Linked DNA regions of Homo sapiens. The protein of the gene in region 2 interacts with the protein of the main gene of each other region in a pairwise test. Each region holds a gene or a part of one and is shown on either strand. Other genes may lie near its edges.

Region 1 (3,963 bases), on a different chromosome or scaffold from region 2:
TTATAGGACAACTGGGGAAATAAGAACACTAGTTAGATATTTCATGATATCAAGAAATCACTGTTCACTTTAGGAGGCTGAGTCACTTGAGGTCAGGAGTTCAAGACTAGCCTGGCTAGCATGGTGAAACCCCGTCTCTACTAAAAATACAAAAAAATTAGCCAGGCATGGTGGCACATGCCTGAAATCCCAGCTACTCAGGAAGCTGAGGCAGGAGAATTGCTTGAACCCTGGAGGCAGAGGTTGCAGTGAGCTGAGATCATGCCACTGCACTCCAGCCTGGGCAACAGAGCCAGACTCCATCTCAAAAACAAAACAAAACCAAAAAAAGAAATTACTGTTAAATTTTTTAGGTTGCATATGTGACTTTTTTTTAAAGTAATCTTAGCTTTTAAAAATACATACTGGCCAGGTGCTGTGGCTTGCACTTATAATCCCAACTCTTAGGGAGGCTGAGGTGGGTGGATCACTTGAGGTCAGGAGTTCAAGACCAGCTTGGCCAACATGGCAAAACCCTGTCACTACTGAAAATACAAAATTAGCCGGGCGTGGTGGCGGGTGCCTGTAGTCCCAGCTACTTGGGAGGCTGAGGCAGAAGAATCGCTTGAAATGCGGAGGTGGAGATTACAGTGAGCCGAGATCACGCCACTGCCCTAGAGCCTGGGTGACAGAGCAAAACTCTATCTGAAAAATAATAAAAACAATAAATAAATAAAATACTACTGAAATATTTATGGAGGAAATCACATACTTGGAATTTGCTTCAAAATAGTCAGTGTAGGGGGTTGGAGGTGGGTGGAGGATAGGTGAGGTATACGTGAAAGAAGCTTGGCCATGAATTGATGATAACTGTTGAGGTAGGCTAATAGAGTTCATTATTCTGTTATCTCTACTCTTGTATATATTTGAAAATTGCCATAATATAAAATTATAAAATAAGTGATAAATGCTTATATATGTAGAGAATATTTCTGGAAAACTATCCAAGATACTGGTAACAGTAATTGCCTTTAGGAAGGGGAACTAGGCCTATGAGACGGGGATGGGGGAGTAAAGACTTTCTTCTCACTGTACAATTTTTATTTTATTTATTTATTTTTTCGAGACGGAGTCTCACTCTGTCACCCAGGCTGGAGTGCAGTGGCGCGATCTCGGCTCACTGCAAGCTCCGCCTCCTGGGTTCACGCCATTCTCCTGCCTCAGCCTCCCGAGTAGCTGGGACTACAGGCGCCCGCCACCATGCTCCGCTAATTTTTTTTGTATTTTTAGTAGAGACGGGGTTTCACTGTGTTAGCCAGGATGGTCTCGATCTCCTGACTCGTGATCCGCCCGCCTCGGCCTCCCAGAGTGCTGGGATTACAGTCGTGAGCCACCGCGCCTGGCCCTCACTGTACAATTATTATATTACCCACAGAATAAATTAATTGAATTATTTTAACAGTCAAAATGAGTAAATATTACATATTTCCCCCCTCTACCAAATTAATCATTAGACTACCGACATGCTCTAGTATATCCTTCCTGTTCTGTTCTTGACTGCACATCATACGCTTCAGCTACCATCTATTTCTGCAGTCTCTTTTACAGCTAAAATTTTCAGCAAAAGTTCTTACTTTCACTGTCTCTTCCCCTCAAATATCATTTCCCTTTTTCATCCCACTCCAATCTGGTTTCCCTCCTCCCCACCCTCCCAAAACTCCCTCTGTCAAGGTCACCAGTAAGTTCCATGTTGCTAAATCTAACAGACACTCTGCATTTAAGTTGCTCAGCCTGTCAATAGCATTTGGCACAGTTGGCCATTGCTTGCTCGATACACTACCCCTTCTCAAATTCCAAGATACCACATTCTTCCTCTATACAACCTCTAAACACTGAAATATTCCAAGGTTGAGTCTTAAGCTTTCTTTCACTTCTCCATCGACATTCTCTCCTTAGCTGAGTTCATCCACTCCCGTAGCTTTAAATACCACCTATTGCTAATGTCTCCAAAATTTTCATCTCTAACCCTGACCTCTCCTCTGAGGTCCAGACCCATATATCCAACTGCCTACTAGGTACCTTACACTTGGATGTCTAATAGACATTTTATTATTTATTTATTTTATTTATTATTATTATTTTTGAGATGGAGTCTCGCTCTGTCGCCCAGGCTGCAGTGCAGTGGTGCGATCTCGGCTAACTGCAACCTCCGCCTCCCGGGTTCAAGCGATTCTCCTGCCTCAGCCTCCCGAGTAGCTGGGATTATAGACTTGAACCACCACGCCGGGCTAATTTTTGTATTTTAGTAGAGACGGGGTTTCACCATGTTGGCCACGCTCAGGTGATCCACCCGCCTCCGCCTCCCAAAGTGCTGGGATTACAGCGGTCAGCCACCGCCCCCCGCAGTTCTGTCACCTGCGGCAGGGTCCCCTGTTAACCTTGTTTCTCCTTCCCTACTTCACACTCCCCTCTTCTCTCTCAATTCCTCGGGCTCTGCCCCACACCCTCCCGTTACTTCAGTTCCTCCACCTCCACCTCCCTCTAACCTTCTGCCTCAAGTTATCCCCCCGCCCCCCAGCCTCAGGTACCGCTTCTCTGTGGTTCCCTCGCCTCTATCTCAGGTTCCCCGCCTTCCACTTCAGTTTTCTTTCCACAGCTTCTGACCCTACGTTCCCAGTCCACACCCTCCCGGCCAGACCCTACCCGGCTGCTCCAGCGTCAGCGCCCCCAGGCGGCGAATGCCTTCCTCGTCCAGCTCCCATTGCTCCGCCATCCCCGCCCGCCGCTCACCTGCCACCGCCCGCGAGACCACCCGGCGCACGCCAGGCCCCGCCCACTGCCCCGCCCCCCGCGCGCGCGCCGCCGCGACCCCGGGAACCGTTATTGGCCGGGTCACAAGCCCGCCCGCCCGCTGCTGGAGCCGCGACCATGGTACGGAGCCCGCTCTGGCGGGGGCGCCAAAAGCACCAAAGCGGCGAATGGGGGCCGCTGTGGCCAAGGATTGGGGCTAAGTGGTTCGAGACCTGGCTCTGGGGCATGGGAGAGAGCGAGGGGCCCCCAGCCGGGAAGGATTTGGGGGGCTGGCTCTGAGGAGTTAGAATAACGCTCTGTCTTGAGGGATGAAGTGTTCTGGCTCTGAGGATGTGGGGGACTCCGGTTCTGAGGGCTGGGCGTGTGCCCCTTTGACGGGGTGGTCTTCATATCTCAGCGCTGGGGGATGCTGACTTTGGGGCAAGGCGAGGGTGTGTGTGAAGGGGAGATCCAAATCTGAAGGATTGGAGCGTGGGGACAGAACTCTAAGGCATGATGGGGAGCTCCAGATCTGAAAGGTTGGGAATCCTGGCTCTGAGGAGTTGGGGTCCTGTCTTTAGAGCATGAGGAAGTTCTAGCTCTAGAAATTGACTTGGACGGGCTGGGCGCGGTGTCTCACGCCTGTAATCCCAGCACTTTGGGAGCCCGAGGTGGGCGGATCACCTGAGGTCAAGAGTTCAAGACCAGCCTGGCCAACATGGTGAAACCCCATCTCTACTAAAAATACAAAAATTAGCCGGGTGTGGTGGCACGGCCTGTAGTCCCAGCTACTCGGGAGGCTGAGGCAGGAGAATCGCTTGAACCCGGGAGGTGGAGGTTGCAGTGAACCGAGATTGCACCACTGCACTCCAGCCTGGGCGACCTGAGTGACAGAGCCAGACCTTGTCTCAAAAAAAAAAAAAAAAAAAAGGTAAGAAATTTACTTGGACGGAGCTTCTTCGGGGGAGAAGGATCAGCGTGGGAAAGAGAGAAGCTCTTTGTAATGGGGTGGGGATGACTGCTTTAGGGCTACCCCGTTTCCTGAAGTCAGTCCGGCAAGAAGCCTTTTGTCTTTCAAGCACCACAGGTTCCCCTAAGCTTGCCTGTGACTGAGGGCTGTCGCCAGGCTGCGATAGCTCTGCACTAACCAGCCCCTGAGTAGTCTTTGGGAAAGAACAGCCGCATCCCTAACCC
Region 2 (3,500 bases):
GACCAGCCCTAGCTAGAGAGCAATTGTCCATCCCAGTAGTTGGAACTTGAGTTCCAACAAGCCTTGCCACTGAGAGCTAAAGTGCTCTGGGGTTCTAAATAAATTTGAGAGGCAGTCTAGGCCACAAGGACTGCAACTCCTGGGCAAATCTTTGTGCTGTGCTGGGCTTGGAGCCAGTGCATCTGGGGGACATGCGACCTAGTGAGACACCAGCCAGGGCAGCCAAGGGAGTGATTGCACGACCCCTCCCTCAACCCCAGGCAGTGCAGTTTGCAGCTCCAAAACAGACCCCTTCCTTCCACTAGAGGAGAGGAGAGGGAAGCTTAAGGGGGACTTTGTCTTGCATCTTGGATACCAGCTCAGCCACAGTAGGACAGGGCACTTGGCATAGTCATGAAGGTCCCATTCCAGGACCTAGTTCCCAGATAACATTTTGAGACACACCTCGGGCTAAAAGGTACCCACTGCCTTGAAGGGAAGGACCCAGTCTCGGCAGGATTCATCACCTGCTGACTAAATAGCACTTTGGCCCTCAGTGATCAGCAGCAGTAGCCAGGTAGTACATACTGTGGGCCTTAGGTGAGACTCTGAGACATGCTGGCTTCAGTTGTGACCCAGTACATTCCCAGCTGTGGTGGCTATGAGGAGAGACTCCTTCTGCTTGAGAAAAGCAGAGGGAAGAGTAAAGAGGATTTTGTATTGCAGCTTAGATATCAACTCAGCCACAGTGGGTTAGAGCACCAAGTGGGCTCCTAGGGTCCCCGGTTCCAGGCCTTGGCTCTTGGATGGCATTTCTGTACCTGTCCTGGGCCAGAGAGGAGCCCACTTCTCTGAAGTATGAGTCCCAGGCCTGGCAGCATTCACCACAAGCTGATTGCAGAGCCCTTGGGCCTTAAGTGAACACTGGCAGTAGCCCAGCAGAACTCCCCACACCACCTGATGGTGGTGGCCACGGGGAGAGACTCTTCTGCGTGTGGAAAGAGGAAAGAGTGGGAAGGACTTTGTCTTGTGGTTTGGATACCAGCTAAGCTGCAGTAGAATAGAGCACTAGGTAGATTTCTAGGGTTTCTGACTCCAGGCCCTGGCTCCTGCATGTCATCTCTGGGGCCAGGGGGAAGTTGCTGCCCTGAAGGGAAGGACAGCCTGGCTGGCTTCATCACCTGCTGACTGTAGAGCCCTAAGGCATTGAGCAAACATAGGTGGTAGCCAGGTAGTGGTTACAGTGGGCCTTGGGTGAGACCCAGTGCTGTGCTGGCTTCAGGTCTGACCAGCACAGTCCCAGTGGCAGTGGCCACAAGGGTGCTTGTATCACCCCTCCTCCAGCCCCAGGCAGCTCAACATAGTGGAACAGAATAGCAAACCCAGAAATAAATCCATACATCTACAGTGAACTCATTTTTGACAAAGGTGCCAAGAACATACTTTGGGGAAAGAAGAGTCTCTTCAATAAATGGTGCTGGGAAAACTGGATATCCATATGCAGAAGGAGGAAAGTTGAGATCCCTATGTCTTGCCTTATACAAAGATCAAATCAAAATGGATTAAAGACTTAAATCGAACACCTCAAACTATGAAACTACTACAAGAAAATATTGGGAAAGCTCTCCAGGATATTGGAGTAGGCAAAGATTCCTTGAGCAATATCCTACAAGTATGGGCAACCAAATCAAAAATGGACAAATGGGATCACATCAAGCTAAAAAGCTTCTGCACAGCAAAGGAAACAATCAACAAAGTGAAGAGACAACCTGCAGAATGAGAGAAAATATTTACATACTACCCCTCTGATAAGGGATTAATAACCAGAATATATACAGAGCTCAAACAACTCTATAGGAAAAAAAATCTAATAATCGAGTTTTAAAATAAGGAAAATATCTGAATAGACATTTCTCAAAAGAAGACAAACAAATGGCAAACAGGCATATGAAAAGGTACTTACTATCACTGATCATCAGAGAACTGCAAATCAAAACTACAGTGAGATATCATCTCACCCCAGTTAAAATGGCTTATATCCAAATGACAGGCAATAATAGGAAGTGCTGGTGAGGATGTGGAGAAAAGGGAACCCTTGCACACTGTTGGTGGGAAAGTAAATTAGTACAACCACTATGGAGAACAGTTCGGAGGTTCCTCAAAATACGAAAAATTGAGTTACCGTATGATCCAGCAATCCCACTACTGGATATATACCCAAAAGAAAGGAAATCAGTATATCAAAGAGGTATCTGCACTCCTATGTTTGTTGCAGCACTGTTTACAATAGCTAAGATTTGCAAGCAACCTAAGTGTCCATCAACAGATGAATGGATAAAGAAAATGTGGTACCTATACACAATGGAGTACTATTCAGCCATAAAAAAAATAAGATCCAGTCACTTGCAACAACATGGATGGAACTGGAGGTCAGTATGTTGAGTGAAATAAGCCCAGCACACACACAAAAAACAAACTTCACATGTTCTCACTTATTTGTGAAAGCTAAAAATTAAAATAATTGAACTGCTGGGGAGAGAAAGAGTAGAGTGATGGTTACCAGAGGAGGGGTGGGGGAAATGTGGAAATGGTTAATAGGTACAAAAAATAGAATGAATAAGATCTGTACTTAATAGCACAACAGGGTGATTATAATCAACAATAATTTAATTGTACATTTTAAAAAACTAAAAGTATAATTGAATTGCTTGTAACACAAAGGATAAATGCTTGAGGTGATGGATACCCCATTTATCCTGATATGATTATTATGCATTATATGCCTGTACCAAAAAATCTCATGTACCCCATAAGTATGGGTACATGTACACCGCTATGTACCCACAAAAATTAAAAATAAAACATTTTTAAAACTAAAAAACACTGGATTGTAGTGATAGTTGCACAACTCTATAAATTTACTGAATTGTGCACAAGCCATGGGTGAATTTTATGATATGTGAATTATACCTCAAGAAACCTAATTTTAAAACAACTGAATAAACCTGCACAGAAAAGAAAAAGAAATCAGCAGAGGAGGGACTAGAATACAGGTCTTCAATGTTCCTTCTACTCTTCTGAGAAAGGATGCTTCTGAGAAAGGATGGGAATAGCAATAACTTTTTTCAAAAGGTTCATATCATCACAGAGAAAGTAATCATCCCACCATGATTTGAAAATATAAAATAATTCAAAATGCCTGGTGGTACTGCTACTTGGACCTAATCCATAATACACTTGTGTTAGAAAATGTCTACTTTCAACTATTTATATTTCAGAAACCCAGGAAAATTCTGTAGTGTGTAACTACAAAATTGTAATATGAATTTATCCTAAAACTCATATCAGAAAGCATTATTGTATATAATTTATAGTACACAAGACAGTTCAGTTCTTTAAAATTAACTGAAAGTTTAATATCACTATTTGACTTACAGTGCGGCTAATGTGGCTCAGAGCATCTTCAAAATAGCCCCAAACTTCTTCCAGGGGACAGAGCTCTACATTCGACGCCCCATCTG
Region 3 (3,500 bases), on a different chromosome or scaffold from region 2:
AAATTAGTGGACCCACAGAAGAACGAAATCTTAAAAGTTAGAAGGAATTTAAGAAAGCCTTCTAGTTTAAACTCTAAATTTGCACACGAATTGGTCTGGAAACATAGAATTCTTTGAGGTTTTGTTAGTTTTATAGTGGCTATAGCTGTCTTCCAGAATTGAATGAGTATACACGTACATCTCAAAGTTTGCTTTGAAAGTATGATTGAGTTCATTTAGGGATGGATACATTGGAAAAACAACTTAAAAGACTTGAGTTTGGTCATGATTCTGCTATTTAGCTGTGTGACATTAAATCTTAATATTTCTGAATAATAATGCCTTCCTAAACCCAATGTTCATAGAATTGTTCAAGGATCAACTAAGAGGCCTGGCGTGGTGGCTCACACCCATAATCCTAGCACTTTGAGAGGCTGAGGCGGGTGGATCACCTGAGGTCAGGAGTTCGAGACCAGCCTGGCCAACCTGGTGAAACCTCGTCTCTACTAAAAATACAAAAATTAGCTGGGCGTGGTGGTGGGCGCCTGTGATCCCAGCTACTCGAGAGACTGAGACAGGAGAATCACTTGAACCCAGGAGGTGGAGGTTGCAGTGAGCCTAGATCGCGCCACTGCACTACAGCCTGGGCAACAGAGTGACAGAGTGAGACTCCGTCTCAAAAAAAAAAAAGGGTCCACTAAGGAAGAAATTTGGAAACTACAAATTGAGTAGTTCTGTTATGATATGTTATTTATTCTACCACATGGAGGGAAGATTGTTTCTCTTAGGAAAAAAAAAAATCATAATCTATAACAGAAGTGGTCCTAGCTTGGAAGATACCTGGAGGGACATGTGTTTGTGAGTAAAGACATGTTATATCCACATCCCAGAGTCACTAATCATTTCTTTAACCTGTGGAGTGCACCTTAAGTATACCCTGAAAAGTCTAGTACTCCATGGAAATTCATAGTATCATCTTCTTTCCCCCTCTTTTTTAAAAAAAAATTTAATAAGTTGAGGCAAAATCTAAAATACAGATTGAGTTGTATGAATATATACCTAATTTAAAGTGGGAGTTATAGAACAACTGGAAAATGGGGAAATGCAGATCAGAATCCTTTCAATAGCTGAACTTTAACAAAAATTTTTTAATGGAATGCAAATGTACTTTACAAGTTAGATCAATTTTAGTTAACTTTTTATTTTAAATACTGTTCATTAACTCATATAGCTTTTTCTAGACTTACAATGGCATTTACTTTTAATTATATCCTTTCTAGAAATTCTGAACATCTCCCTTTTACTCTTGGCCATTGTGCATAGTTTCTAATCCTATACCATCCCCACCCTATTTCTAACAGGTTTTTGTTTTGTTTTGTTTTTTGTTTTTTTGAGACAGAGTCTCGCTCTGTTGTCCAAGCTGGAGTGCAGTGGCCCAATCTCGGCTCACTGCAACCTCTGGCTCCCGGTTCAAGCACTTCTTGTGCCTCAACCTCCTGAGTAGCTGGGATTACAGGCGCCCACTACCATGCCCGGCTAATTTTTGTATTTTTAGTAGAGATGAGGTTTTGTCATGTTGGCCAGGCTGGTCCCAAACTCCTGACCTCAAGTCATCCGTCCTCCTTGGCCTCCAAAAGGGATTACAGGCGTGAGCCACTGCCCCTGGCCTCTAACAGGTTTTTTATTACTAAGGTAGGATGACTGTGATAACAAGATATGATAATGAAAATGCAGTTGTATGTCCTGCATATGAATATTTTAAAATGATTAATTTATTTTTGAAATGAAAATGTTTTCATTCAGGACTACTATAAAGCTTTGGAAGATGCAGATGAGAAGGTTCAGTTGGCAAACCAGATATATGACTTGGTAAGTAAAAGTAATGTGCATACTGTGCCATAAGTACTTGAATAACAGATTATATCTTAAATTGTATTGGCTTAAATGTAGTAGGAAGAAGCAACTAAAACTGAAGTATTGCTCTCTTGATCACATCTAATTTGACATTTCAGTGTCCATTTTATGGTTTCTTTGTGGAAAAGTCAGAGTGGTTAGTTAATGTGGTGAGAACTGTACATTTTAGCAAGTCTATACGGCGGTAAGGTGGTTTCTGATGTTAGATATTTTTTAAACAAGAATTAATGTTTAACTTTATTTTACTAATCCTTGTCTTCTTAAGGTAGTGTGTTTACTTGCCTTATACATCATTTTGAGATTGTTTCTGTGGTAAAATACACCTAAGAAGACTGCTTTGACAAGAGTTCTTGGTAGTCTGATTAAAATGAAGAAGAATCATTTGAATCAGTGTTTATGTGAGTGATGTTAAAAGATCGTATGTAACAGCTGTGTCAGTTGTTTAAGCAATACAAGATGACAAACTTTAAACAAGATTCTTTTTTTGCAGCAGCACTTCTAAAAGATTGAAAACACCAAGAAGATAGATAGAATATTCACTATTTCTCATATTGATGCAATTGTGGTGCTCTTTTTCATTTGAAACATCTTCTCCTAAAATATACACTTTAAGAAATAGTCATTTCTGTTTTTGCATTAAAGTAAATTAAAGCAGAAAACACATGCTCACTTTTGGCTAACTTCAGTGTATAGATTTCATACTTATGTTGTCTTTCCTGGGTACAGATTTATTACTGAACAAGTACGTGTAAGTAAAATGTCATTGGTGAGCAGGACACAAGATAAAAGGTGAACACCACATATGGTGTGAATTGTAAATGCTTATACCACAAACTTGAAAATGTGTCATGTAGAGCCATGGAAAATGTCTAGTTGTTTTTATGTAGTACACACATTTTAATGGTGCTAACAACCTGGGCTCTTTTGTTCATAGAGTTATTCTGAAAAAAATTTCATAAAAGACACTGCCTAAAGATAGGTAGAATAGGCTGTAGCTTGATTTACTGTGGAATAAAAACCAAAAAAAAAAAGGTCTTAATTGTTTCAGTCTTTAATTATGTCTATAAACTTAGAAAAAGGCATTTACATTTGAATCTAGACTAATTTGTTTAGTAACATTCTTCCTCATATTCAATGACTGTATGTATCAGTCCTTATTTAGAGACTGCCTGCTTTTTAATTCATATAGCTCTTTGGTTCTATTCTTTGTTTTGTTTATTATTTTGTTGTTTTATTGCTTGTTAGACCTTTACTAAAGATATTTTGTGTATTTAGAAAAAATATAACATAAATATATGCTTTTTAAATATGTGTGTGTGTGTATTCATCTCTTATTTAAAAACCACACTGTTCATCCACTCTGTGCCTGAAAAAAGGGAGCTGTACCTGGGTCTAATGGAGGAATAAAAAGTAAATACTAGGCCGGGCGCAGTGGCTCACGCCTGTAATCCCAGCACTTTGGGAGGCCGAGGAGAGTAGATCACGAGATCAGGAGATCGCGACCATCCTGGCTAACATGGTGAAACCCCATCTCTACTAAAAATACAAAAATATTAGCCGGGCCTGGTGGCGGGTGCCTGTAGTTCCAGCTACTCGGGAGGCCGAGA
Region 4 (2,789 bases), about 26 Mb from region 2:
TTTGTGGGGACTGACAATTTAAGTAATGCAAAATAATTTGATTATGACAACTGAGAAAAGAAACGTGTGTTGTGTTTTGAGGTTATCATTTCCTTGACCATCATAAGCAGCCTGGTATCTATTTCATCTTTGTTCGTAATCACAGCACACCTTTGAACACATACCAAAATGATGATGGAATGAGAGCAAAGTATGTGAGTCAATTGGCTACTCTGTGAAACAATTTGTTAGTTTTAGGCTATAGTTCTTTTCAATTTTCAGCCAAATTCTATAAAAATCTTAGCTGGAAGGAAATGCAAATGTCAGGTTACATTTTAGAAATTAATTTTTGGGCTGAGTGCTGTGGCTCGTGCATGTAATCCCAGCACTTTGGGAGGCCGAGGCCGGTGGATCACCTGAGGTCAGGAGTTTGAGACCAGCCTGGCCAACATGGTGAAATCCTGTCTCTACTAAAAATACAAGAATTCGCCAGGTGTGGTGGTGCGTTCCTGTAATCCCAGCTACTCGGTAGGCTAAGGCACAAGAATCACTTGAACCCAGGAAGCAGAGGCCTGGGACTCTCCAGCCTGGGTGACAGAGCAAAACTGTCTCAATTTTTGGCCCAATTACCATGTAGCATTAACTTGTTTCAGAATGTTTAATATTACTGGGAAGACAGCATCGGTAGTGGTCAAAGTGATTTGTAGTTCACAAAGCATGTAGGCATTTTTTTTTGAAGAAAGTAAACAAAATAATTTGAACTGTTGTTTCAGGTAATAAAATAGACTCATGCGGTAAGTCATTTGAGCTGTATGTACAAATGGACTATGACACAGCTAAATTAGTCACAACTGTCCACCACAGGCCAACTTCAAGATAAAGGGCTATATATCAGTTAGCAATGCTCTCTTACAACCAGCCCTGATGTGTTTGTAAGCAGGAAAATAATTTTATGGTTACAATCAACAAAGAAGTATCAGGCCAGTCCACCAAGCCCAGCCAAATCCCATATCTCGCTCCAGTTTTATAGAGATTAGCATATCACATGAGCCAAATGCTGTTCCCCAACTTAGAATGTGATATTGCTATTTTGCAGGGAAAGTGTAAGCCCTGTTCTGCAACACTGATGAAATAGAAGTATTCATAGATCTTGTTTAACGTGGTCCAATAATTGAAACATAAAATAGATATCTTGTAACAGAACATTTTTAAAAGTCAAGAAAGATAAGAATTAGGCCTTGGAAAATAAATGACTATGAAGAAAGATAAAAAGAAAAGAGACTGGGGTGTCTCTGAAGACCCTGCTTAGAGGCCCTGTCCTCCTTGCGGCAAGCGGCCATTGCCATGGAAACCGGAGCCGCAGGGCTATCTGTCCGGGATTGTGACGCCCAGATGGGAGTGGTGAGAGGAGACAGAAAGAGGGTGGTGGCCGATAGCTGGTCCTCTTTCTCCAACACCTAGCCTGAGACTTGGCGGCGCGGCTGCTATCCTGAACTAGCTTGGTAAGTGTTGTGTCCCGAACCAGCGTAGAGAGACCTCGGACCAGCCGCCTTGATGACAGCATCCGCGTCCTCCTTTTCATCATCTCAGGGTGTCCAGCAGCCCTCCATCTACAGCTTCTCCCAAATAACCAGAAGCTTGTTTCTCAGCAATGGTGTGGCCGCCAACGACAAACTCCTTCTGTCCAGCAATCGCATCACCGCCATTGTCAATGCCTCGGTGGAAGTGGTCAACGTATTCTTCGAGGGCATTCAGTACATAAAGGTGCCTGTTACCGATGCTCGTGACTCGCGTCTCTACGACTTTTTTGACCCCATTGCTGATCTTATCCACACCATCGATATGAGGCAGGGCCGTACGCTGCTGCACTGCATGGCTGGAGTGAGCCGTTCCGCCTCACTGTGCCTTGCGTACCTCATGAAATACCACTCCATGTCGCTGCTGGACGCCCATACATGGACCAAGTCGCGCCGCCCCATCATCCGGCCCAACAACGGCTTTTGGGAACAGCTCATCAATTACGAATTCAAGCTGTTTAATAACAACACCGTGCGCATGATCAACTCGCCGGTAGGTAACATCCCTGACATCTATGAGAAGGACCTACGTATGATGATATCAATGTAAGCCATCCCGGCCAGCCCCTGACATCTGCCATCGATCTTGCACCAAGACTGAACTTGAACACTGACATTTTGTTAGTAAAGAAAACCGGATGGTGCCTTGTTAAAGGGCAAGAAAAAAGGGAGGGGGTTGGAGTTTTGAACGTAGTAAGCCTTACCTTAATAGAATTAAATTCATGAAACATAAGATAGTGAAAATATTTTTTATATTGTGAGGTCAAGCTATTGGGGCCTGGCTGGAACCAGGGTGGGGCAAGTAATGCTCAGCTCACATAGACCTGCCAGCAGCACCCAATACATGTGGCAGACCTGGAATCCTGAGCCCTGCCAGAGGCTGACTAACCCAGGAGTGAATCCCCTAGAATCTCACCCGGTTCTTTCCAACCCAAAGTCAAAGCCTTAGACATCTTGGCATCCCTTGCACTTCTCCCAGTAAGTGCCAACCTAGTGGATAAGTGGCTTTCATTCAAGCTGTGCTCCAGGAGCTCTGGAGGAGTCTCAGGCTACCCTTGCCCACCTTCAATCACAGTGGCCCATCTCTGGTTTTCTAGATCGGATTTATACATTAGTTAAAAAAAAAAAAACTAGTTTTTTAAAAGACCATTCCACTCCATAAAGTTTAAAAATATTGTATTTTTTTGACTGCTGTACTTGATGGCAAGTTCTCAAGGTGTCTTTGGTGATCTC
Region 5 (3,500 bases), on a different chromosome or scaffold from region 2:
CTCTCCTCATTCCTCTCCCCCGTGTTGAAAACCCACATTCTCTGGTGTCTGGTCCAGCCTCTCTGGGATTTTTGACTGCCTGCCTCCACCAGGACAGTTTTGAGCTTGTATCTCCAATATATTTAGTTCACAGCATGGTACTACTATACCTTAATGATAGCACATGCTTATAACTACACATGTACATGGAAATCAAAAGTGATGAGGTTAAAAATGAATATAAAGCAGGGCTCTGGTATCTGCTCTCCCACAGATCCTGCACAGCCTTCTTTGGGGACCATAGTTCTAGTTGACGAGCGAACCTGATCAATGAACCCAGGCAAAGTCCCCACCCACCAGAAAACAGAATTGCATTCGAAAAGAAAACCTTGTGGGGGGAGGGAGAGGCAGGGGGGCGAGCTCTAATTTCCAAAACGAAAAGAGGGCCAGATGTGGTAATCCCAGCACTTTGGGAGGCTGAGGCGGGAGGACTGCTTGAGCTCAGGAGTTTGAGACCAGCCTGGGCAACATGGCAAAACCCTGTGTCTACAAAAAAATACAAAAATTAGCTGGGCATGGTGGCGCGTGACTGTAGTCCCAGCTACTTGGATGGCTCAGGTGGGGGGATCATCTGAGCCTGGGAGGTCGAGGCTGCGGTGAGCCATGATCGTGCCACTACACTTCAGCCTGGGTGATGGAGTGAGACCCTGTCTCAAAAACAAACAAACAAAAAAACCAAAGAAACAAAAAGAAGAACCTATTTCAGCAATTTCAGCATCAGGTTGGAGGGGAGGGGAGTGTGTGGGAGGAGGGGGGCCAGAGTTTAGAGAGGAGGTGGGAGGTCTCAGGAGGCCCCAGTGTTCGAGCTCATTATGATCTTCTTCATCATCCCTGCCATCGGTGAGCATCCAAGTAGCTGTTCTCAGTAAAGGGGAAGTCTGAGAGGTGGGAAGAATGGAAACCAGCACCAGGCAGTGGAGCAGAGCTAGGCGGTAACAGTCTAGGTGGATGTCACCATCCTCATGTTACAGAAGAAGAAACCGAGGTGTAGAAAGGTGAGCTGACTTCCCCAGGTTACATGGCTAGTTTGGCAGGTTTCCCTCCAAGATTCAGAGCTAAGGCACAGGACTGGGTCTCATCCATCTCTGTCATCAGGCAGCCCATCAGGGTCTCTGTCAGGGCCGGTCATGTGACCAGGGAGCAGGCTGAGACTGGGATCCCAGGGAAGCCGGAGAGCCTTGGGAAGCCGTAGTGGGCTCATCCTCCCCTCCAGTCGTCGAGCCCGAGGTCGCGGAGTACCTATACCTGGCTCTTGTTGAAGTCTTTCACAGATGCACAAACTGCCTTTCTGGTGGTGCTTTCCAGCTTCTGGAGGTGCTTGGCTGTCTCGTCAAACTGCAGCCTTGTCTCTGTGTAGAGGGCCTCTGAAAGGAGGCAAGAAGCAATCAGATCGACCTGGCCACAGGAGCACCTTCCCACGTGTGGCCGTTCGTGCCTTTGCCTCCTACCACGTCCTTAGCCATGAGCATGAGGACGGGAACAATAATGACAGGACCTGCCTCTGAAGGCTGTGGGAGAGTCAAGCTCCCAGATGAGTGCTAGTGATCACTACTATGCTGGGGTCCTGGGACAGGCTGGTGGTGTGCCCCTTGCTGTCCTGCTCTATCCTGAGGCAGCTACATCCTTACAGTGGGCAAGAGATACTCTACAGCCCCAAGAAATGACGTTTGAGACCTGCAGGACAAAAGAAGTGGGTTGGGAGCAGGTGCAGAGGTTTTGGGAAAGGATTCAGGGGAATCCAGAAGTGAAAGAGCAAGAAACCAGACAGGACTCTATGGAGGAAGTGGGGCCAGATGACAGATACTGTGGAGTGGCAGGAGGACTTGGTCAGGCCAATGAGTAAGAGAAAGAGGAAGAGTAGGAGGTGAAGGGGTCAAGGTAGAAGGTCCAAAAGCAAAATGTGAAGATTTGGAGTCAGAGGAGGCTCACATCCCAGCCCAGACATTTCCGAGCTCTGTTAACCTCAACTATTACTTAGCCTTGCTGAGCCTGTGTCCTTACCTGTGAAGCAGGACATACCTCCTTTGCAGAATAATAACATTATTATTATTAATAATACTATTATTATTATTAATAATACTATTATTAATAATACTATTATTATTATTAATATTATTAATAATACTATTATTATTATTAATAATACTATTATTAATAATAATAATTAATTAGACATCCAAGTGCATTAGACATCCAAGAGAAGTTAGATGAATTTATGAGTCTGGATTCAGGGAAGAGTCCAGGCTGGAGGTATAAACCTGGGAAATGATGGCCTATAGGTGGCATTTAAATAATAATTAATTATTTAATTATTATTATTAATAATAGTATTAATAATAATAATAGTATTATTATTATTTGACATGGAGTCTCGCTCTGTTGCCCAGGCTGGAGTGCAGTGGTGCATCTTGGCTCACTGCAACCTCTGCCTCCTGGGTTCCAGCAATTCTCCTGCCTCAGCCTCCGGGGTAGCTGAGATTACAGGCGCGCACCACCACGCCCAGCTAATTTTGTATTTTCAGTAGAGACAGGGTTTCACCATGTTGGCCAGGCTGGTCTTGAACTCCTAACCTCGTGATTTGCCCACTTTGGCCTCCCAAAGTAAGAACAGTGTTGAATCACTTGAACCTGGGAGGCAGAGGTTGGCCAGGCTGGTCTCAAACTCCTGACCTCAGGGGATCCACCCACCTCGGCCTCCCAAAGTGCTGGGATTACAGGTGTGAACCACTGCACCTGGCCAAACTCCACATTGTTTAAAAGTATCACTGACTGCTGTTTTGGGAATGGACCAGAGAGGGGCAAGAAAGGAAGTGGAGGCCATCAGAAAGATCTTGGCAGAGGTCTGTTCAGCTGAGATGGTGGCTTGCATCACAAGGGTGACAGCAGGGATGGGGACAAGCGGACAGTTCAAAATATATGCAGGAGGTAGAAGGGACAAGAGTCAGAGATGGCCTGGAGTCAGGGGTGGGTCATGGATGATTCCCTAGACTTCTGGTTTAAGGGCAGGAGGTACCAGTTAGTTGGAGGAGAAAGATGGAAAAAGGAGCAGATGCAGAAGAGGATCCAGGGCTGCTTTCCGACATGTTGTGAAGGGTCCTGTGAGATGTCAAGGAGACTGCTGAAGAACCAAGTCCACAGCTGAAACAAAGCCTTTTGGCCAGAGGTGGAAATTTAGACCACTTGGGAGATGGATGAACCATACAACACGTCAGTGATCAAGGCTATGGAGAAAAATTAAGCAACAGGATACGGAATGTGGGGTGGGAGGAGGGTACAGGGTTTAAAATAGGGGGGTCAGGGGAAGCCTCACTGATAAGATAGCACTTTAGCACAGCCCTGGAGGAGAGTGGTGATCCCTACAGATATCTGGGGAAAGACATTTCTAAGCAGAGGGAACAGCACATGCAAAGGCCCTGAGGCAGAAGTGAGCCTGATATACTCACGTCTGAAAACAGCAAGAT
Region 6 (3,500 bases), on a different chromosome or scaffold from region 2:
AAACTAAAAATAAAGAAATAAGAAACTAGCCAGGCGTGGTGGCGCACGCCTGTAATCCCAGCTACTAGAGAGGCTGAGGTGGGAGAATCGCTTGAATCTAGGACACAGAGGCTGCAGTGAGTGGAGATCATAACATGGCACACCAGTCTGGTTAACAGAGCGAGACTCTGTCTCAAAAAAATAAATAATAAAAACATTTAAATTTTGTTTTAATTAACTGGGTGTGGTGGTGCACACCTGCAGTCCCTGCCTTTGCTCACATCCTTTTCCTTACCTGTGGAAATCTTTCTAGGCTGAATTCAATGGTAATGAATCTTTCGATGCTACCACCTCCACAAAGCCTTCCTTGTCCTCCCACCTATCTTTTTGTCCTCAGCTAGTAGTTATCATCTTCTAAGGTTTTACAAAGCACTGTTATTTTTTAGAGACAGGGTCTTGCTCTGTTGCCCAGGCTGGAGTGCAGTGGTGTGATCATAGCTCACTGCAGCCTGACCTCCTTGGCTTAAGCCATCCTCCTGCCTCAGCTTCCTGAGTAGCTGGGACTACAGGCGCAAACCACCACACCCAGCTAATTGTGTATTTTTTACTGAGATGTGGGTCTTGCCATGTTGCCCAGGCTGGTCTTGAACTCCTGGGCTCAAGCAATCTGCCCACTTAGGCCTCCCAACATTTTGAGAGTACAGGTGGGAGCCACCATGCCTGGCCAAAAAAAAAAATTTTTTTTAGAGATGGGGTCTCACTGTCACTCAGGCTGGAGTGCAGTGGCAAGATCTCAGCCCACTGCAGCTTGAACCTCCTGGGCTCAAGCAATCTTCCCACCTCAGCTGCCAAGTAGCTGGGATCACAGGTGCATGCCACTATACCCAGCTAATTTTTTGTATTTTTTGTAGAAACGGGGGTTTGCCATGTTGCCCAGGCTGATCTCAAACTCCTGAGCTCAGACAAGCTGCCCACTTTGGCCTCCCAAAGTGCAGGGATTACAGGCGTGAGCCACCATGCCCAGCCAAAAACTTTTTTTTTTTTTTTTTTTTTTTTGAGTCAGAGTCTCGCTCTGTCACCCAGGCTGTAGTGTAGTGGCGCAATCTCAGCTCACTGCAAACTTCGCCTCCTGGGTTCAAGGGATTCTCCTGCCTCAGCCTCCTGAGCTACTGGGATTACAGGCAACTGCCACCACGCCCAGCTAATTTTTGTATTTTTAGTAGAGATGGGTTTCACCACGTTGGCCAGGCTGGTCTTGAACTCCTGACCTCAGGTGATCCACCCGTCTCAGCCTCCCAAAGTGCTGGGATTATAGGGCTGAGCCACTGTGCCCGGCCCAAAAAAATGTTTTTAAAGAAGAAAATAAAAATATCCCACTAGTCAGAGATGTCCACTGCTGACCTGATATCTATCCTGTAGCCATGTCAACGTAGATAGAGATGCTTTTATGTTGTGAAGCATTTTGATTCGCCTCTTCATTTGGTAACTGTGTTAAGCATCTGCCTGGGGTCAGGCACAGTGAAGCTCTCGCCTTGTGCTGTGTGTGGCTGGGCCCACAGCACAGCATTAAGCCACCCTGTGCTTAGCCTGCTTGGCTGATGGGTGAGGACAGGCAGAGTGCGTAGCTGGCGATTCAGCGGCAGGGATGTTGCTGCTCTTTGGCCCTCCCAAGCTGCTAGCCTTGGTGCTGTTGGAGACCTGAGGGTTGGGAGGGCACCTGCTGGGTCCTTCTCTTGGGCAGAATCGTGCGGGCTGGGCCCTGGCAGTGCCTCCCAGGCACCCCTCATTTTGTGCCTCTTTGGGAAGGACGTGTCAGTGGCATAGTGTGGGAGACACTGGTGGGTTCATGCAGCTTCTCAGGGAGTGGCCAGGCGTGATCCTCAGGGCGGGAACCACGCTCTCAGTCCTGCCCTGGGCCCTACAGGAACGCTGGCGGGTGACTGCCGAGCAGTCCAAGGCGGAGTCCATGCAGCGCGCCCTAGAGGAGCAAAGGAAGGTCACGGCCCAGCAGATGGCCATGGAAAGGGCGGAGCTGGAACGGGCCAAGGTGAGTCAAGCCACCGCACTCAGCCCCTGCCCCTGCCATTATGCCCAGGGACACTCACCCCGTGCCTTCACCCCCACATCCCAGAGCGCCTTGCTGGAGGAGCAGAAGTCTGTCATGCTCAAGTGCGGGGAGGAGCGGCGGCGCCTGGCTGCCGAGTGGGCGGAGTTCTCCGCGCAGCAAAAGCTGAGTAAGGAGCGGGCCGAGCGCGAGGCCGAGCGGGCATTGCAGGTGGACACCCAGCGGGAGGGCACCCTCATCAGCCTGGCCAAGGTAGGGCCCAGAGCCTCCGGACAGTGGAGGGCCCAGGGTTGCCTGCGCCCCTCCATCTGGACACATCCGCTTCCAGTCTTAGGAAAGGAGAGTGTAGCACTAATGTCACAAGAGCATAGGGATTAAAACAGTAATCGCATCATCATGCTAACATCTTCCTCGTATTGTCCCAGGTGCATTATACACATTTTATTTGATCCTCATGTTCCCATGACTTTGGTCATTTAGAAATGAGGAAACCGAACTTCAGAGTTGAGCCTGCCACAGTCACGTGGCTTGTGAGGGCAGCACTCCGGCTTGGCCCCAGGCTTCTCTGGCTCTCCCTGGAAGCCCCTGGCTCCACCACCTCCTCCCAGGGGCAGGGTGGGCAGAGGGGACCCTAGAGTCCTGCACAGAGTGCAGCGCAATTCCTGGGAGGAGAATGCAGCAGGGCCTCCGCTGTCTCCAGGAGCAGGCTGAGCTGAAGATCAGGGCCAGCGAGCTCCGGGCCGAGGAGAAGCAGCTGGCAGCGGAGAGAGCAGCCCTGGAGCAGGAGCGGCAGGAGCTGCGGCTGGAGAAGGAGAGGATCAACGCCACCGCCCTGCGTGTCAAGCTCCGCGCCGAGGAGGTGGAGAGCATGAGCAAGGTGCTGCTCGGGCACATGGGCGTGGGCGCATCTGAGCCCAGGCAGCCCTGACCCAGGCGGCCTCCCTGCAGGTGGCCTCCGAGAAGTACGAGGAGGGGGAGCGGGCATTGCGCGAGGCCCAGCAGGTGCAGGCAGAGCAGCAGGCCCGGTTGCAGGCGGTGCAGCAACAGCAGGAGCGGCTGCGGAAGCAGGAGCAGCACATGCACCAGGCAAGGCTCCCTGAGTGTATGGCGCCCCTGCCCCCGGCACCCCCAGCCTCCCACCTCACAGCTGAGTCCTTCTTTCTGGGGGAACGGGGACAGGAGCATCTGAGTCTGGCCCAGCAGAGGCTGCAACTGGACCGCGCACGACAGGACCTGCCCTCTAGCCTCGTGGGTCTGTTCCCCAGGGCCCAGGGCCCTGCAGCCTCCAGCCAGAGTGGTGAGTGGCTCCAGAAGGAAGGGCCGGCGGCTCAGGACTGGGCAGGGGCAGTGCTAGGAGTGGGCAGGCCCTCCTCCAGCCGCTCCAGTTAAGGCGGCCAGCTGGGTTTTATAGTCGCCTTATTTCTTTTTTACACAAATAATGTGTGTTAATTTTAGA
Region 7 (3,500 bases), on a different chromosome or scaffold from region 2:
GAGCTCCTGGGGGCCCTCTCAGAAGTCTGCCTACCACACAGGGCTAGTGATTACAGGTTAGCTGAGCCTCAAAGAGCCCCAGAAGACTTGCCAAATAGTTCCAGAGCCGGCCTTTGGGTACGACCTGCTCAGCTGGAGGAAAAGGCAGAGTCACTGACTCTTCACGTGGCCCAGAGCCTTGCAGTGCAGCATCTCCCGGCACTTAACAAATGCAGAGTCGCAGACTACACCCCAGACCTACTCAGTCAGAATCTTCTCTTTAGGTTGGGTGTGGTGGCTCACACCTGTAATCCCAGTACTTTGAGAGGCCAAGGCGGGTGGATCACTTGAGGCCAGGAGTTCAAGACCAGCCTGGCCAACATGGGGAAACCCCGTCTCTACTAAAAATACAAAAATTAGCTGGTCGTGGTGGTACGCACCTGTAACCCCAGCTACTCAGGCTGAGGCAGGAGAATCGCTTGAACCCAGGAGGCGAAGGTTGCAGTGAGCCAAGATCACACCACTGCATTCCAGCCTGGATGACAGGGCAAGAGTTCGTCTCAAAAAAAAAAAAACAAAAGAATCTAGGCCAGGCGTGGTGGCTCACGTCTGTAATCCCAGCAGTTCGGGGGGCCAAGGTGGGTACATAACTTGAGGTCAGGAGTTTGAGACCAGCCTGGCCAACATGGTGAAACCCTGTCTCTACTCAAAACTATGAAAATTAGCCGAGTGTGGTGGTAACGCACCTGTAATCTCAGCTACTCGGGAGGCTGAGGAGGGAGAATCACTTGAACCCAGGAGACGGAGGCTGCAGTGAGCCAACATTGTACCACTGCACTCCAGCCTGGATGACAGAGTAAGACCCTATCTCCAAAAGAAAAAAAGAAACTTCTTTTTAGACACATTCTCAGGGCGTTCACATGCACATGAAAGGTTGAGAAGCACCAGAGTAGAGTGGTGGTTCCCAGTGGGGTCCAGTTTTGCCCCTGGGAACATCTGGCCCTGTCTGGAGACACCTGATTGTCACAGGGGGGTGGTCACATGTGTCTGCTGCTGGCTGGCGTCCAGGGGGTAGAGGCCAGGGAAGTTGTTAAACAGCCCACAATGCACAAGAAAGTCCTGAGAAAAAAGAATTACCCAGCCCAAATGCCAAGCGTGCCAAGGCCAGGAAAGCCTGGGACAGGGGAGGGAAGTTTCTCTGTCCTCCCACCTGTGTTCTCTGGTGGCCCAAGCCCACACTTCCTTTACTCCTATGTTACTGTGTCTCGATTCTCAGCTGCTGCTGTTTGGGCGTTCCTAAGACTGCCCTTCAAACTCAGCAGCCTTCCTGGTCTCACTTCTGTGTCTGCAGTCAAGCCTGAGCCTCTCGAGAAGGGTGGGCACCCCGCCTGCAGGGGGCACGACCGGCAGGGACCAGGAGTCCCAGACACACCTGATCCGTGTGCCACCTCTGCCTGGAGCTGACTACAACGGAAAGAAAGGAACCCTGAAAGTTTACCCTTACGTTAAATCAACACGATGTGTGAGAAACCAGACAGCACACATTCCCCCGGCCTGCCATGTTCTCCAGGCCCTCCCTGCCACGCCGGGGGCTCAGCAGGAGAGAGAGAACCACGACGAAGTCCAGGAATGGGATGTGACAGGGGCCAGGGACCAAGGCTGGTCTTGCCGCCATCACTCCGCTCACCACCTTGCTCTGACTACCGCACTCCATCACTGATCCCCTCACCGAGAGGCCTTTACCAGTGAGCACTGGGGGCCTCCGAGCCCCAAGACAGACTCTAGAATCCCACAGCTTTGACAGACAGGCCAAGAGGTCCCAGACATTCGCAACACTAAAATCACAGCATTTCAGACCAGAGTTGCCAACTCTGTCACCCGGGCTGGAGTGCAGTGGCGCGATGGCTCACTGCAACCTCCGCCTCCCAGGTTCAAGCGATTCTCCTGCCTCAGCCTCCCGAGTAGGTGGGATTACAGGTGCCCACACCCGCCTAATTTTTGTATTTTTAGTAGAGATGAGGTCTTACCATGTTGGTCAGGCTGGTCTCAAATTCCTGACCTCAAGTGATCCAGCCACCTCAGCCTCCCAAAGTGCTGGGGTTATAGGCATGAGCCACTGCAACCAGCTCAGAGTTGGCCACTTCTCATTTTGTCAGTGATAAAAAACAACTACCATCTATTACCTTCATAATTTCACAAAAGAACATTTACATAAATATTATATATATACACACACACATATATATATATATGACCTAATCTCAGAATAAAAAACAGTCCTCATCAAGAAAGGGCAGTGAGCAAGCTAGCAACTAGCATTCTTTTTTTTTTTTTGAGACAGGGTCTCACTCTGTCACCCAGGCTGGAGTGCGGTGGCGCAATCTCAGCTCACTGCAAGCTCTGACTCCCGGGTTCACACCATTCTCCTGCTCCAGCCTCCCGAGTAGCTGGGACTACAGGTGCCACGCCCAGCTAATTTTTTGTATTTTTAGTAGAGACAGGGTTTCACCGTGTTAGCCAGGATGATCTTGATCTCCTGACCTCATGATCCGCCCACCTCAGCCTCCCAAAGTGCTGGGATTACAGGCCTGAGCCACCACATCTGGCCACAAGCTAGCATTCTAATAAACACACATTAATTCAATTATGCAACAAAACAAATGCACACGCACACACAGTTTAACCAAATGCAGCAGGGCCTCATCTGGGCTCTGAGAGCGCAGGAAGCCAGAGCCTCCTCTAATGCGGACAGAACTACAGAACGGCTCTGGGGACCGCAGCAGGGACTGGGAAAGAGGGTCCAGGCAGAGGAGCCTAGAGGAGCCTGCGCAGCCACAGGGCCCAGGCAAGGCTGGAGACACTACTAGCCAGCACTCCACTCCCCACCACTCCCTACAACTTGGGGGCCCCATTATCGCAGCCCCAACTGGGACTGGGCTCATCACTCTTTGGAGCCTGAAGTCCTTCAGGAGGCCTGAATCCTCTGCAGTTGTGTCTACAGTGAGAAACCCCAAGAACTTGTAATGAAACAAAATACAACTATTTTATAGAAGAAAACTGTAAAAATCACCCCAAAATCTGTAAATGGCCCTCCACAGTCTGAGACCACAAAACACCCAGTCCTTCTGCTCACTGCTGTGGCTTTGTCTCTGGGCTGCCCAGGCACTCTCAGCACTGTGTTTCCAACACAGCCTTCCCGACAGTCCTGGTGCTCACTCCCCCAGGCAGTTTGGGTTCTGTCCTCAATTAGATGAATGAACTGGCTTTCCGATCCTGTCACCAGGGTCTGTGAGTGCACTTGTGTGAACGCAATGCTGAGCGCCAGGCCCACTCAGGGCGCTAACAAGGCAGGCCTTTAAGCCAGGATGGCTCAGGGCCCCAACTAGCCTCCAGCTACGACCCCAAAATGAGGAGTGCCCATAGTGAGACCTGGGAGACGAATAGCTGTCTCTAGGCTCTGCTAATACCGACCCACCTCAACTACAGAAGACTGGAAGAGGTCCTGCCCGGGCCCAGGGTCT

Evidence for each region.
Region 1: the proteins of TEX11 (region 2) and LRRC36 interact in binary tests that used the Homo sapiens proteins (3 or more experiments, as listed by UniProt).
Region 3: the proteins of TEX11 (region 2) and ING3 interact in a two-hybrid assay, tested with the Homo sapiens proteins (2 studies listed by BioGRID).
Region 4: the proteins of TEX11 (region 2) and DUSP21 interact in binary tests that used the Homo sapiens proteins (3 or more experiments, as listed by UniProt).
Region 5: the proteins of TEX11 (region 2) and RIBC2 interact in a two-hybrid assay, tested with the Homo sapiens proteins (one large-scale study listed by BioGRID and IntAct).
Region 6: the proteins of TEX11 (region 2) and FBF1 interact in binary tests that used the Homo sapiens proteins (3 or more experiments, as listed by UniProt).
Region 7: the proteins of TEX11 (region 2) and MAD1L1 interact in a two-hybrid assay, tested with the Homo sapiens proteins (2 studies listed by BioGRID and IntAct).

What each region holds. Positions count from the first base shown.
Region 1 is NC_000016.10:67,325,652-67,329,614, reverse strand, and holds the start of LRRC36 (leucine-rich repeat-containing protein 36), read right to left. Parts: upstream 2,801-3,963; 5' UTR 2,753-2,800; coding exon 2,683-2,752; intron 1-2,682. Other genes in the region: BTB/POZ domain-containing protein KCTD19, read left to right, coding at 2,908-2,910.
Region 2 is NC_000023.11:70,548,712-70,552,211, forward strand, and holds part of TEX11 (testis-expressed protein 11), read right to left. Parts: coding exon 3,415-3,500; intron 1-3,414. UniProt on the Homo sapiens protein: Regulator of crossing-over during meiosis. Involved in initiation and/or maintenance of chromosome synapsis and formation of crossovers.
Region 3 is NC_000007.14:120,953,777-120,957,276, forward strand, and holds part of ING3 (inhibitor of growth protein 3), read left to right. Parts: intron 1-1,782; coding exon 1,783-1,848; intron 1,849-2,383; coding exon of another isoform or gene 2,384-2,395; exon of another isoform or gene 2,396-3,204; intron 3,205-3,500. UniProt on the Homo sapiens protein: Component of the NuA4 histone acetyltransferase (HAT) complex which is involved in transcriptional activation of select genes principally by acetylation of nucleosomal histones H4 and H2A.
Region 4 is NC_000023.11:44,842,600-44,845,388, forward strand, and holds DUSP21 (dual specificity protein phosphatase 21), read left to right. Parts: upstream 1-1,421; 5' UTR 1,422-1,533; coding exon 1,534-2,106; 3' UTR 2,107-2,289; downstream 2,290-2,789. UniProt on the Homo sapiens protein: Protein phosphatase component of the sperm flagellar doublet microtubules. May act as a regulator of sperm motility by mediating dephosphorylation of sperm doublet microtubule proteins.
Region 5 is NC_000022.11:45,420,193-45,423,692, reverse strand, and holds part of RIBC2 (RIB43A-like with coiled-coils protein 2), read right to left. Parts: intron 1,404-3,500; coding exon 1,285-1,403; exon of another isoform or gene 720-1,284; intron 1-719. UniProt on the Homo sapiens protein: Microtubule inner protein (MIP) part of the dynein-decorated doublet microtubules (DMTs) in cilia axoneme, which is required for motile cilia beating.
Region 6 is NC_000017.11:75,913,543-75,917,042, reverse strand, and holds part of FBF1 (fas-binding factor 1), read left to right. Parts: intron 1-1,903; coding exon 1,904-2,026; intron 2,027-2,110; coding exon 2,111-2,296; intron 2,297-2,744; coding exon 2,745-2,921; intron 2,922-2,992; coding exon 2,993-3,130; intron 3,131-3,223; coding exon 3,224-3,341; intron 3,342-3,500. UniProt on the Homo sapiens protein: Keratin-binding protein required for epithelial cell polarization. Involved in apical junction complex (AJC) assembly via its interaction with PARD3. Required for ciliogenesis.
Region 7 is NC_000007.14:2,226,446-2,229,945, forward strand, and holds part of MAD1L1 (mitotic spindle assembly checkpoint protein MAD1), read right to left. Parts: intron 1-3,500. UniProt on the Homo sapiens protein: Component of the spindle-assembly checkpoint that prevents the onset of anaphase until all chromosomes are properly aligned at the metaphase plate.